Regions from separate parts of the Homo sapiens genome. Here all the other regions are reported to be linked to region 1. The links are microRNA targets in miRTarBase. Many come from high-throughput screens and were not tested one by one. Region 1 holds a microRNA gene; each other region holds the end of a gene's coding sequence.
The links. The annotated mature microRNA hsa-miR-4712-3p reads AAUGAGAGACCUGUACUGUAU and lies in region 1 at 1,935-1,955, opposite strand. An mRNA with a match to its seed (bases 2 to 7 or 8) in the 3' UTR can be bound and repressed. Matches are read on the target gene's strand: a 7mer-m8 pairs with bases 2 to 8, a 7mer-A1 pairs with bases 2 to 7 and ends in A, and an 8mer does both.

Region 2: the mRNA of ZKSCAN8 is a reported target of hsa-miR-4712-3p. The part of its 3' UTR that is shown has no 7-base or 8-base seed match.
Region 3: the mRNA of CCT2 is a reported target of hsa-miR-4712-3p. Seed matches in the 3' UTR shown: 7mer-A1 at 1,399-1,405.

Annotation. Positions count from the first base shown.
Region 1 is chr15:50,357,570-50,362,339 of GRCh38, reverse strand. MIR4712 (microRNA 4712) reads right to left here and starts at 2,011; the gene lies at 1,930-2,011. It overlaps GABPB1-AS1 (GABPB1 antisense RNA 1), which reads right to left. Exons shown (of 1, transcript NR_024490.1): 1 at 4,028-4,770.
Region 2 is chr6:28,152,767-28,156,497 of GRCh38, forward strand. ZKSCAN8 (zinc finger with KRAB and SCAN domains 8) reads left to right here. Exons shown (of 6, transcript NM_006298.4): 6 at 290-3,731. The coding sequence ends at 1,251. Among named protein-coding and RNA genes, the nearest start is that of ZKSCAN8, 13 kb to the left of the region's middle.
Region 3 is chr12:69,600,135-69,603,865 of GRCh38, forward strand. It overlaps CCT2 (chaperonin containing TCP1 subunit 2), which reads left to right. Exons shown (of 16, transcript NM_006431.3): 16 at 1,161-1,436. The coding sequence ends at 1,191. Among named protein-coding and RNA genes, the nearest start is that of LRRC10, 8.9 kb to the right of the region's middle.

The DNA.
Region 1 (4,770 bases):
GAAGGAGTTAAGGATGAGATTTTGAGCCTGAGTTCTGCAGTGTCTTTTGCACCTGTCTCGCCTTTCCTTCACCATTGTCATTCCCCAGAATTCAGGCCTACCTTATCTTTCACATTTGTGATGCATTTACAGAAAAATTGGCTCAGTCAGGGAAGTAATAGTTGGTAGTGTGTATCCAGCATTGCTCACGAGTTTTAAAAATAACCATGAAATATATAATATACATACTGAAAGTACATTTTTCTCCAAAAAACCTACTTCTCATTAAGTCATAGAGTGCTAACACTCATGTAATCCCAGTGTCTTAGAATGTTCGGCTTATTTGGCTCACGGTTTTGCAGGCTGTACAAGAAGCATGGTAGCAGTATCTGCTTCCAGTGAGGGCTTCAGGCTGCTCACGGTGGAAGGCAGACAGGAGATGACATATGCAGAGATCACATGGCGAGAGAAAGGAGAGAGGAGGTGCCAGTCTCTTAATGAACTCACTCCTTACAGAATACGAAGCCACTCATGAGAAATCCACTCCCACAACCCTTCCCACCAGGCCTCACCTCCAACACTGGGGATGAAATTTTAACATGAGACTTGGTAGGGTCAGACAAACCAAACTCAAGCCATAGCACCCTACTTAGGAACAGAACATCAACAGCACTCCAGAAGCACCTATTACCTCCCAAGCACTACTCCCTGCAAAGCTAACTATTTCTTTTCTTTATACTTTTACTACCTAAACATATATCCCTAAATCTAGATTGGTTTGCCTGTTTGTTGAACTTCCCATTTTCCAAAGTGGTTATACCAATATACATTTCCAGCAGCTGTGTAGTTTCAGTTACTCCAACTCTTGACCAACATCTGGCATTTTCTGGGTTTTCCATTTTAGCCATTCTGTTGGATGTGAGATTAAAATATCATTTAGGTTTTAATTTGCATTTCTCTAATGATTAAATTAGTTGAGTATCTTTTACATGTTTATCGGCCATCTACACGCCCCTTTTATATTTTTTAAGAAACTAATATTTAGATACCCTTTTTTGTGAGGTGACTGTTTAAGTTTCTACCTTTTTTTTTTTTTTTTTTTTTGAGATGGAGTCTTGCTTTGTCGCCCAGGCTGGAGTGCAGTGGCACGATCTTGGCTCACTGCAACTTCTGCCTCCTGGGTTCAAGCAATTCTCCTGTCTCAGCCTCCCGAGTAGTTGTGATTACAGGTACGTGCCACTACGTCTGGCTAATTTTTATATTTTTAGTAGAGACAGGGTTTTGTCATGTTGGCCAGGCTGGTCTTGAACTTCTGACCTCAAGTGATCTGCCTGCCTGGGCCTCCTAAAGTGCTTGGATTACAGGTGTTAGCCACTGCCTGGCCTCTACCCATTTTTTTATTGGATGTCTTCTTTTTTATTGATTTGTGGGAGTCTACAAATTCAAGATAGCAGCAAAGAGATGTATTTCTATTGTAGACATGAATGCATTTGGCTGGGTGTGGTGGATTACATCTGTAATCCCAGCACTTTGGGAGGCTGAGGTGGGAGGATCACTTGAGCTCAGGAGTTTGAGAATAGCCTGGGCAACGTGGCAAAACACAGTCTCTACAAAACATACAAAAATGAGCTGGGCGTGGTGGTGTGCACCTGTAGTCCCAGCTACTCAGGAGGCTGAGGTGGGAGGATCGCTTGAGCCCAGGTTGAGGCTGCAGTGAGCTGAGATCACATCACGGCCTTCCAGCCTGCATGGGCGACAAGGTGAGACCTTATTCCCTCCACCTCCCCAAAAGATGAAATGAATTCATTTGTTTGATGCTATTAGAATACCAGTAACTCCCCTTACTTTGGCCCCAAATTCACAAATGAACCCTCCAAAAGGTAATGCAGTTAACTTCATGCATTCTCTTTAAACAATGTACTGAGTCTTTATGCCAGGGAATTTGGAATTAACAGATACAGTACAGGTCTCTCATTTCAAAGTAGTATTCCTAATCATGAAGGAAATGAGAGACCTGTACTGGAATCCTGTCTTTAACACCTTTGAGGATGGTGAATTTAGGTAAGTTATTCAACCTATTTTAGCCTCGGTTTCTTCATTGGAAAAATGGGGCAAACAATACTTATTTTACAGAGTTGTGAGGATTAAATGAGACAATATATATAATATGCTTTGCACAGTGGCTGGCATACAGGAAACGTTTAATATATGGTAGCTACTATAAACTCGGTTATTTCCGTGTAGCTTTCCATGTCTACATGGAGGGAGAAAATGAGCAGATGTCCATTATAATTTAGCTATTACAGTTTTCACTCTAAAGTAAAAAAGGCATTTAGATTTATATGTCTTCTGGGAGTTTGGTTCTTCTGACTCCCTTCATCTGTGAGACCATAGGTACTTTTATGTAATATGATAAAAATTATTAGAAAAAGAAAAAAACGGCCGGGTGCAGTGGCTCACACCTGTAATCCCAGCGCTTTGGGAGGCCAAGGCAGGTAGATCACCTGAGGTTGGGAGTTCGAGACCAGCCTGACCAACATGGAGAAACCCGTCTCTACTAAAAATACAAAATTAGCAGGGTATGGTGGTGCATGCTTGTAATCCCAGCTACTTGGGAGGCTGAGGTAGGAGTATCGCTTCAACTCAGGAGGCAGAGGTTGCGGTGAGCCAAGATCGCACCATTGCACTCCAGCCTGGGCAATAAGAGCGAAACTCTGTCTCAAAAAAGAAAAAAATAAACTAAAAAGGAAAAAAGGGCCGGGCACGGTGGCTTACGCCTGTAATCCCAGCACTTTGGGAGGCTGAGGCAGGCGGATCACAAGGTCAGGCAATGAAGACCATCCTGGCCAACATGGTGAAACCCCGTCTCTACTGAAAATACAAAAATTAGCTGGATGTGGTGGTGCACACCTGTAATCCCAGCTATTTGGGAGGCTGAGGCAGGAGAATCGCTTGAACCCAGGAGGCAGAGGTTGCAGTGAGCCGAGACTGCACCACTGCACTCCAGCCTGGCGACAGAAAAAGACTCCCATCTCGAACACAAAAAACAAACAAAAAAAGGGAAATAAAGAATATGCAAAGTACAATCCCTCAAATTTTTATTAGACCCACAGAAATAAAATTAGTCTGTTAAACTGCTATAAGTTTCTAAATTCTTACTTTCTGTAAATGCCTTGACATGGATGTGTAACAAAGGGCTTACAGACTGGCACTGCCTTGTGGACCACACTTTTGGTGAGACTGCTCTAGAGCGCTGACAAAAATCAGACTTTGAATCCACAGGGCTGAAGTCAAAGCAACTGAAGGGTGTCCTGACTCACCAGCTGGCCACCTAGTGGCCTCCTTCTAGTCATAAGCACAACCTTGTGTCACTCCTTAGTTCAAAAACCATCCATTATTCTGCCTGACTCAAGGGTAAAATCTCAGTCCTTTAATCTGACATCCAAGGCCTTCCAGAGCTGGTTCTAAACAACTTTTTAAGTCTGACTTTCCACTATCCTCTACTTCACTAGACTGCATTGTCCAATATGGTAATAACTTGTCCCACTTGAAATGCAGAAGTGAAATGAGGCTAATTTAGGAACTGAATTCATAATCCTAACTTTAATTTAAAATAAAATTTAAAAATATACACGATTCGATTACCGTAAAACTTTTAAGTATGCTTGGAACGACTTGGGTACGTGAATCTATTTTTTCAGCTGGAAATTTTATGAAATCAAGTACTGAGATATGCTATAAGTATAAAATACACACCAGATTTCAAATGCTTAGTTATGAGAAAGATAATGTAAAATATTTTTAATATTTAGTAATTTTTTATGTTGATCACATGTGAAATAATATTTGGATATGCTAGGGGTTAAAAGTGTAATTAAAATTAATTCCACCTAGACAACATGCCCCAAACCTAGGCATCACTATTGATTCCTCCCTTTCCTCATTTAATTGGTAAGCAAGATAGGTCAGCTTTTTGGATCCATCCACTTCCCTCATCTCTACTGCTACTATCCTAGTCCATGATACTCCATTTCTTTTTTTTTTTTTTTTTTTTTTGAGACGGAGTCTCGCTCTGTCGCCCAGGCTGGAGTGCAGTGGCACGATCTCGGCTCACTGCAAGCCCTGCCTCCTGGGTTCACGCCATTATCCTGCCTCAGCCTCCCGAGTAGCTGGGACTACAGGCGCCCGCCACCACGCCTGGCTAATTTTTAAAAAAATTTTTTATTTTGAATAGAGACGGGGTTTCACCATGTTAGCCAGGATGGTCTCCATCTCCTGACCTCTTGATCCTCCCACCTCGGCCTCCCAAAGTGCTGGGATTACAGGCGTGAGCCACCGCGCCCGGCCAGATACTCCATTTCTTAAATCCTTCAATGGCTTCCAGTGCACTTCACCTTCTTATTGAGGCTGAAGACTTCACCTCCTATCATTCCTTCTTTTGGTCACTAGATTTCGGATACACTGACCTTGCTATTCCCTAAACACAACAAATTTTTCACCTTAGGGCCTTTGCCCAGCTATTCCCTTTGGTCTCACACTGTTCTTGTCCTTTCTAATACCTTCTCAGTGAGGCCATCTCTGATCAACCAACCACCAAAAGTTTGCTCTCTTTTCCCCAGAGTAACACTTTATCCAATCAGCTTTTAATTTTCCTCACAAACTCTTTTTTTTTGAGGCGGAGTCTCGTTCAGTCGCCCAGGCTGGAGTGCAGTGGCGCAATCTCGGCTCACTGCAGCCTCCGTGTCCTGGGTTCAAGCTACTCTCCTGCCTCAGCCTCCGGAGTAGCTGGAA
Region 2 (3,731 bases), not on the chromosome of region 1:
TAGTTCCATATTCCTCTCCCCAACTTTCACCTCACTTCAGTTCATCCTTTCCTGACTTTAGTTCCCCTTCCAATTAACTCTCTTTTTTTAATGGTACCTCTTTCCCAGTTGACTAGCTCATATTAAGCAAGGTCACTATTAAGAAGCTATTTTGGAGACAGAAGTTTTGTGTTTACTTATAGCTGTTCATGTGTACTTTCCTTTTCCCCTATCTTCAGTTCCTTTCTCCTAGCATAAAGAATAGGTTGTGACATTGGCTTGATGTTTGTTTATTACATTTTTATTTCAGGTGGTGAGACCAGGAGTGAGAACAGGGAATTAGCTTCAAAACAGGTAATATCTACTGGAATCCAGCCACATGGAGAGACAGCTGCCAAATGCAACGGGGATGTTATCAGGGGTCTTGAGCATGAAGAAGCCCGAGACCTTCTGGGCAGATTAGAGAGGCAGCGGGGAAATCCCACACAAGAGAGACGACATAAATGTGATGAATGTGGGAAAAGCTTTGCTCAGAGCTCAGGCCTTGTTCGCCACTGGAGAATCCACACTGGGGAGAAACCCTATCAGTGTAATGTGTGTGGTAAAGCCTTCAGTTACAGGTCAGCCCTTCTTTCACATCAGGATATCCACAACAAAGTAAAACGCTATCACTGTAAGGAGTGTGGCAAAGCCTTCAGTCAGAACACAGGCCTGATTCTGCACCAGAGAATCCACACTGGGGAGAAGCCATATCAGTGCAATCAGTGTGGGAAGGCTTTCAGTCAGAGTGCGGGCCTTATTCTGCACCAGAGAATCCACAGTGGAGAGAGACCCTATGAATGTAATGAGTGTGGGAAAGCTTTCAGTCATAGCTCACACCTCATTGGACATCAGAGAATCCACACTGGGGAGAAGCCCTATGAGTGTGATGAGTGTGGGAAAACCTTCAGGCGGAGCTCACATCTTATTGGTCATCAGAGGAGCCACACTGGGGAGAAACCCTACAAATGCAATGAGTGTGGGAGGGCCTTCAGTCAGAAGTCAGGCCTTATTGAACATCAGAGAATCCACACTGGAGAAAGACCCTATAAATGTAAAGAATGTGGGAAAGCTTTCAATGGGAACACTGGTCTCATTCAACACCTGAGAATTCACACAGGGGAGAAGCCCTACCAATGTAATGAGTGTGGGAAAGCCTTTATTCAGAGGTCAAGTCTCATTCGACATCAGAGAATCCACAGTGGTGAAAAATCTGAATCCATAAGCGTTTAGGAACAACATCAGTTAGAGTTTGAGCATTATTCAGCATTAGGGAAACCACACACTGGTGAGAGGTCTTTCAGTGTACTAAAAGGCAGAAAGGTCATCACAACTTTAGTGTCAGAATCTATAGTGGTGGCAAAGTTAGGATAGCTCTTTAGTAATTTGGGCCCAGTGCCTTGGTGAAGGTTGATTAGCTTGACTGTCTTTGAAAGTATCTGATGGAGCTCCTGATGACCTAATGTATCCTTTAGAAATTTAAAATAGCATTAGAGCAAGTTGCTTGTCATGGCTTGAAGAGCTTAACTTTGTCTTTTGGGTGAGTAGCTATAGGTTTGAGAGAGGCTGGCTACTCCTAGTTCCTGTGCTTCTTCCCATCTCCTGTGATCCCCCTCTCCCATTTATTCCCTTGAAGGTGCCCTTGTATTCCTAATCTGATCTAAGAAGCTGCTGTAGAGTCAGAAGTAGCTTCTGTGTGAAACTTATATTTGTATGTAGCTTTCTAGGAAAATTTTACAGACACTTAAAGTATTTATGCTTAAGTGTGCATTTTTTTATTCTAATATTCCTTCTAGTCAGTGGAAATTTGTATTCCCATACAAACTCAGAATGCTATATTTTTAACAGCACTCCAGCATTTTTCTTCATGTATCACCTTCACTGACTCCATTGAGTCATTGAGCATCTGTACATATCCTTCACCACCCCCAGTCCCAGCACCTGTGTCAGTAAAGAAAGTGGACACATTAGTAATGGTTATGGGAGTAATACAGAGAAAGAGGTGAGTGGAGACTCAGCCCAGCTGCTCTTGAGCTTGGATAGTTATACATTTTGGTGACTTCTGACTCTCCTTCCACCTCCCCACTGTACACTGTGGTACAGATAGTTGGCACTATCCTAGTTATGGCATCAGGTAGGAGAAGGAGACGAAGATGCTTTAGGAAGATAAAAACCTTACAAAGAATGTATACTCATCTTTTTTGGCCCATTACAATACTGCTTTCTCAGGTTCTTAACAGCCTGTGCAAACTCCCTGACTAGATGGTCTGTCACTCCTATCATTACCTTGCACCCATCTCTTTAGATGGCCTCAGCACCTCACTCGTTATTCTCCATCTGTTTCTTGCCATTAGTTTATATGACTTTAATATCCACAGTGGTAATCTAATACCTTACCTCACAGGTTTTCATTCTTTTGAACTCTGGTGCACTCCATCTGTAATCCATGTCTATAATCTACCAACAAAGATGTACTCTTAAACTCAGTATCACCAGGCACTATATTTCATCTTTGAGGCTTTTGTTATACCAAGGAATACTATATAAAGTAATGAGACTGGTTTAAAGTAACATGCCAGAACTTACGCATCCAATGTGGGTTGTCACTTGTTATTCCCAAGTACTATTATTCCATACTACTATATTCTTCCAAATATTTGGAACACTCTTAGAATTCCCATTTAATAAACCATATGAGAAAACCCTCTATTACTCTTACACTTTAGTTTTACCATTTGAGTAGCCACTTATTCACCAGAGTTGGAATTGAGAAATTTTGGGCTTTCCAAAATTAACCTTTAAACTTAAAATTGATTACATTGAGCCTATTCAGAAAAAAAATTATATAGGTTCTGATGAAAGCTTCATAATTTCACCCTGTGACTATCCTGAAAAGAAATAATAATCATTTTATGATTGATGGGCCAAAAAAAGCAATCAAAGTCTTACGTCATAGAGGACCACCTTTTGGATCATAAATTCTTTCCCTATAACATTCCTTCTCTGCCTCTCTATGGCCCACTTTGACCACTAACAACATCAGAATTATCTACATCAATTTCATTGAGCCATTGGTGAATGAAGACACCCATCACTTGTCATGTTGGTTTCCAACAGTCCTTTCGATTATCCTTTATTTTCTTATCCTCCCTTCTCTTGTTTCTTTTATTTATAAGTTACCATTCCTAGTTTCTTTGTACTTGAAATTTTAAGAAACCAGAAACAAGTAAATCTGGTTGTATCTAGATCTTTGCTCTGTGTTTCAGTTGTGCCTTACCCTCTGTAAGATACTGATTCTTCCTGGGGCCAGTATTACCTTGTATGCAAATATTACATATGATGGGTGCATTGTCAGAGGGAAAATATATGTGTATGTACACATGTGTATGTACACACACACACACACCTGCCATACACTTTAGAAGAACGCTTCTCTTCTATTCCAATAAAAAGTCCTTTTAGCAATGCAACATATTAACAAAATTGGGTGCATTCAGGGTGGTATGGCCATAGACCAGAGCAACACATTGAAATGTATACAGATGTACTAGCTAAAGTCTCTTTATGTGTCAGTATTAAGAGTAATATGTAGCCAGATTACTTAAATCTCAGAATTACTAAGCATGTGGCATAAATTTGGAGAAAATAATATGACTAGAAAAATTAGTGTTATATTGGGTGTGAGAAAAGACTGTGTCTTGAAAGAATTATCA
Region 3 (3,731 bases), not on the chromosome of region 1:
AATATCACAACTCTTAACACTTAAGCCAGAAAAACTTAAGGGGAAAGAGGGATGGGCAGCTGAGGTAGCTCTTAGGATTGAAAAGGCACAGAAAGAGCCATGCTTGGAAAGGTCAAGTACTGAGGACAGTAGATGCTGTGATGCTTTCTATTGTCTTTAAACAGAATGATAGCAAAAGGAAACTGAGTTCTGTAACTAAAGTGTTCTAGGGCAAGGTCATATAGCCACACCTACTCCCAGAAATCTTCACAAGAAGTCAGTGCCCTCACCCACAGTTGAAATAACGCTTAAAAAATGTATAATACCTTGTTTGGTCTGATACTGTTTTAGAGATCAGGTATCTTTTATTAGCAAATTCTGAGTAATTTGCAATAAAGAAACTGAATTTTAACTCAGCCTTCCAGACCTACCAGACCATGGGCTTCTTTTTCATATTCCTTATTAATCTCCAGAAGACTTTTTTTTTCAGATCAGTGCCCTGTGACAGCTGCTTCATAACTCTTGACAATGGTTAGCATCCTAGTCCCCCCATAAGCTACCAAGGGTGAAAAGTTTATCTCTCTATATGATCCCTGTATAATGCTGTACTCTTTGATCTGTTCTTAAGCTTCTTCAGCTTCTCGTAACTGTTGTGTTTGCCTCTAAAAGCAGTGTTTCTCAAGCTTTAGATCCTTGAACAAGCATTAAGTACAAATTTACTAGTACCCTTATCCCATCTTTCCAAAAGATTGTTCTATGCCCCCTTATTGTATGGTCATCAAAGAATAAAAGATGAGAATAGAAGGTGCTTCTTGTTGGTGGGGGTGTCTGCAGAGTCCCAAGGCAGAACAGTCCTGATGTGGTGCAGGGCATCACACAGAGGAGGGGGCTGAGTGGCTAGCTCAGGTCTGTCTTCCTCCTCACCTAAAGCCAGCAGTCCCATCCTATATAACCCATTAGTCCATGACATAACTTGGTCACCTCTTAAAAGCCCAACTTCCAATACTGCCACATTGGGGATTCAGTTTCAATGTGAGTGTTATAGGGGACACACATGCAAACCATTGCAGAGTTATAACAGTTTTAATACAGGATTCTAGTTGTGTTTGTATTTAGTATAATACTTTGGATAAAATCATGCTCTTCATTTTTCACTATTGACTTTTTTCTTACTCTCATAGGAAACGTGTCCCTGATCACCACCCCTGTTAAGCATTCCCACGTGCTGTCGATCTTTGGACCAGTTTCTAGCAAAGTTGTGTTTGAAAGATACTCTATTAAAGAAGACTGTGGAATCTGTTTATCGGTGCCCATTATATCCTTAAGTTTGGATATTTAGCTGACCTTCGCTTTAACATAGGTCTAATTTATTTGCCGTGTCATTTTCCATACAAATCAGTTGATTTAAAAAAGTTCATTTCTCATACTGTGCATTAAAATAAAAATTTGAACAATTACTTGGTTCTTATGTCTTATATGTGTGTATTCTGTTTGAACTCTACTTAATGGAAATTAATGATTATTTTCAATATGGCATTTTCCAGCTTAATGATTGGCCATCTACATTTTTGAAATAATTATCTTGATTAATATAAGTCCAAGTCAAATGTGATAAACACGCCATATATTAATCTTTTGGTTTTGTTGCTGGGCCATAAGAACACTCAATCATGGCTGGGTGCGGTGGCTCATGCCTGTAATCCTAATATTGGGAGGCCAAGGCAGGTGGATCACTTGAGGTCAGGAGTTCAAGACCAGCCTGGGCAACATGGTGAAACCCCATCTCTACTAAAAATACAAAAATTAGCTGGGCATAGTGGTGGGCGCCTATAATCCCAGTTGCTTGGGATTTAATTTACCCATTTAATTTTGTTTAGTGAAAATGCCATAAACTAGTACTCATTTAATTTGGTGTAGTCTAAGTGCTGTCTCTTGCATTGAAAAAAATTACGATGCTTTCTGTGATGTGTTTTTTTTTTTTTTGAGATGGAGCCTCACTCTGTCCACCAGGCTGGAGTGCAGTGTGGTGCGATCTTGGCTCACTGCAACCTCCACCTTGCAGTTTCTAATGATTCTTCTGCCTCAGCTTTTCGAGTAGGTGGGATTACATGGTAGTCCACCACCATGCCCGGCTAATTTTTGTATTTTTAGTAGAGAATGGGATTTTGCCATGTTGGCCAGGCTGGTCTCTATGTTGTATGATGTTTTTAAGCTTGAAAAAGTCATATTTTAAAGTTGCAAGATGATGTGCTCTAAGTATCTTTTTTTTTCAAGACAGGATCTCACTCTGTCCTTCAGGCTAGAGTACAGTTGTGTGATCACGGCTCACTACAGCCTCTGCCTCCTGGGCTCAAGCGATTCTTTCACCCTCCCAAGTAGCTGGGACTATAGGTGCATGGCATCATGCCTGGTTGATTTTTTTTTTTTTTTTAATTGTAGAGACAGGTTTTGCTGTGCTGCCCTGGCTGGTTCTCAGCACCTCTTTCCAATGCTTTGTAAGGTAATTTCTCTGAAGAAGAGTATGGTTAGACTTAAGTATTGTTATTGATTGGGTTTTTTTTTTTTTTAAGGGTTTTTTGTTTTGGGTAAGTGGATAAGAGAATGAGAATGGGTGTAAGTATGGACTGAGTTCGCTGGTTTAAAGGCAACTCTAGATTTGGAGGCTGTTAATACTGCATCCGTATGTAGCAGAATACACAAGAAGTAAGAGACCAACAGGTTGAGTTTTTATTGGACATCTGTGCTAACATGGAGGGACATTCCCATAAAGGAGCAAAGGATTTTTAAAGAAACACTGATAGACCAAACAATTTTGTGGGAAGGGGGGGGGGAAGTTGAGACATGTAAGAATTTGTCTCAATATTTTAATATTTGTAGATGTGATTAAAACTGGAAGAATGTGGTATTAGAATTACACTGATTGAATAGCAATACCATCTGCTGTGTGATTTTTTTTAAGTGCTTTATCACACATTAATTGTAATCCTCACAACTGAGGTAGGTGGAGCAGGAGAGCATATGACAACCCACAAAGGATGTGGTGGGACAGGTGAGTTTATCCTGAGGGGCCAGATGGCATGGAGTTAGGCATATTTTCTCCAAAGACCTTAAAACAGATTGGCCAATAAAAAATATTAAAAAGGTAAAAATATGCAAACTACTATATTGAAGAAAATAGCCATACCTTGCCTTCATATATTTCAAAGCCCTTACTGATTGTTGTCTTTAGAAAAATCTCAAGTTCACAAATATCTTTCCAGTTTCAGAGGTAAGTATGACCTAGACCTAACTCCTGTTAACGGTTTTAGGATGGAGTTTTTACAATTTTAGATTTGGGGTACATGTGCTGCTTTGTTACAAGGGTATTATGTGTGATGGTGAGGGTTGAGCTTCTAGCATATCCATCACCCAAATATTGGACACCGGACCCAGTAGGTAACTTCAACCCTCATGCCTATCTTACCCTCCACACTTTGGAGTCCCCAGAGTCCATTTCGTCCATATTTGTGTCCGCATGTCACTTTTGTTTAGTTCCCACTTAAAAATGAGAACGTGATATTTGATTTTCTGCTTCTGTGTTCATTTAGGATAATGGCCTCTAGCTCCATCCGTGTTGCTGCAAAGGACATTTGTTTTTCTTTTTTATGGCTGTGTTGTATTCCATTGGTGTGTATGTACCACATTCTTTTTTTTTTTTTCTTTTTTATTATTATACTTTAAGTTTTAGGGTACATGTGCACAACGTGCAGGTT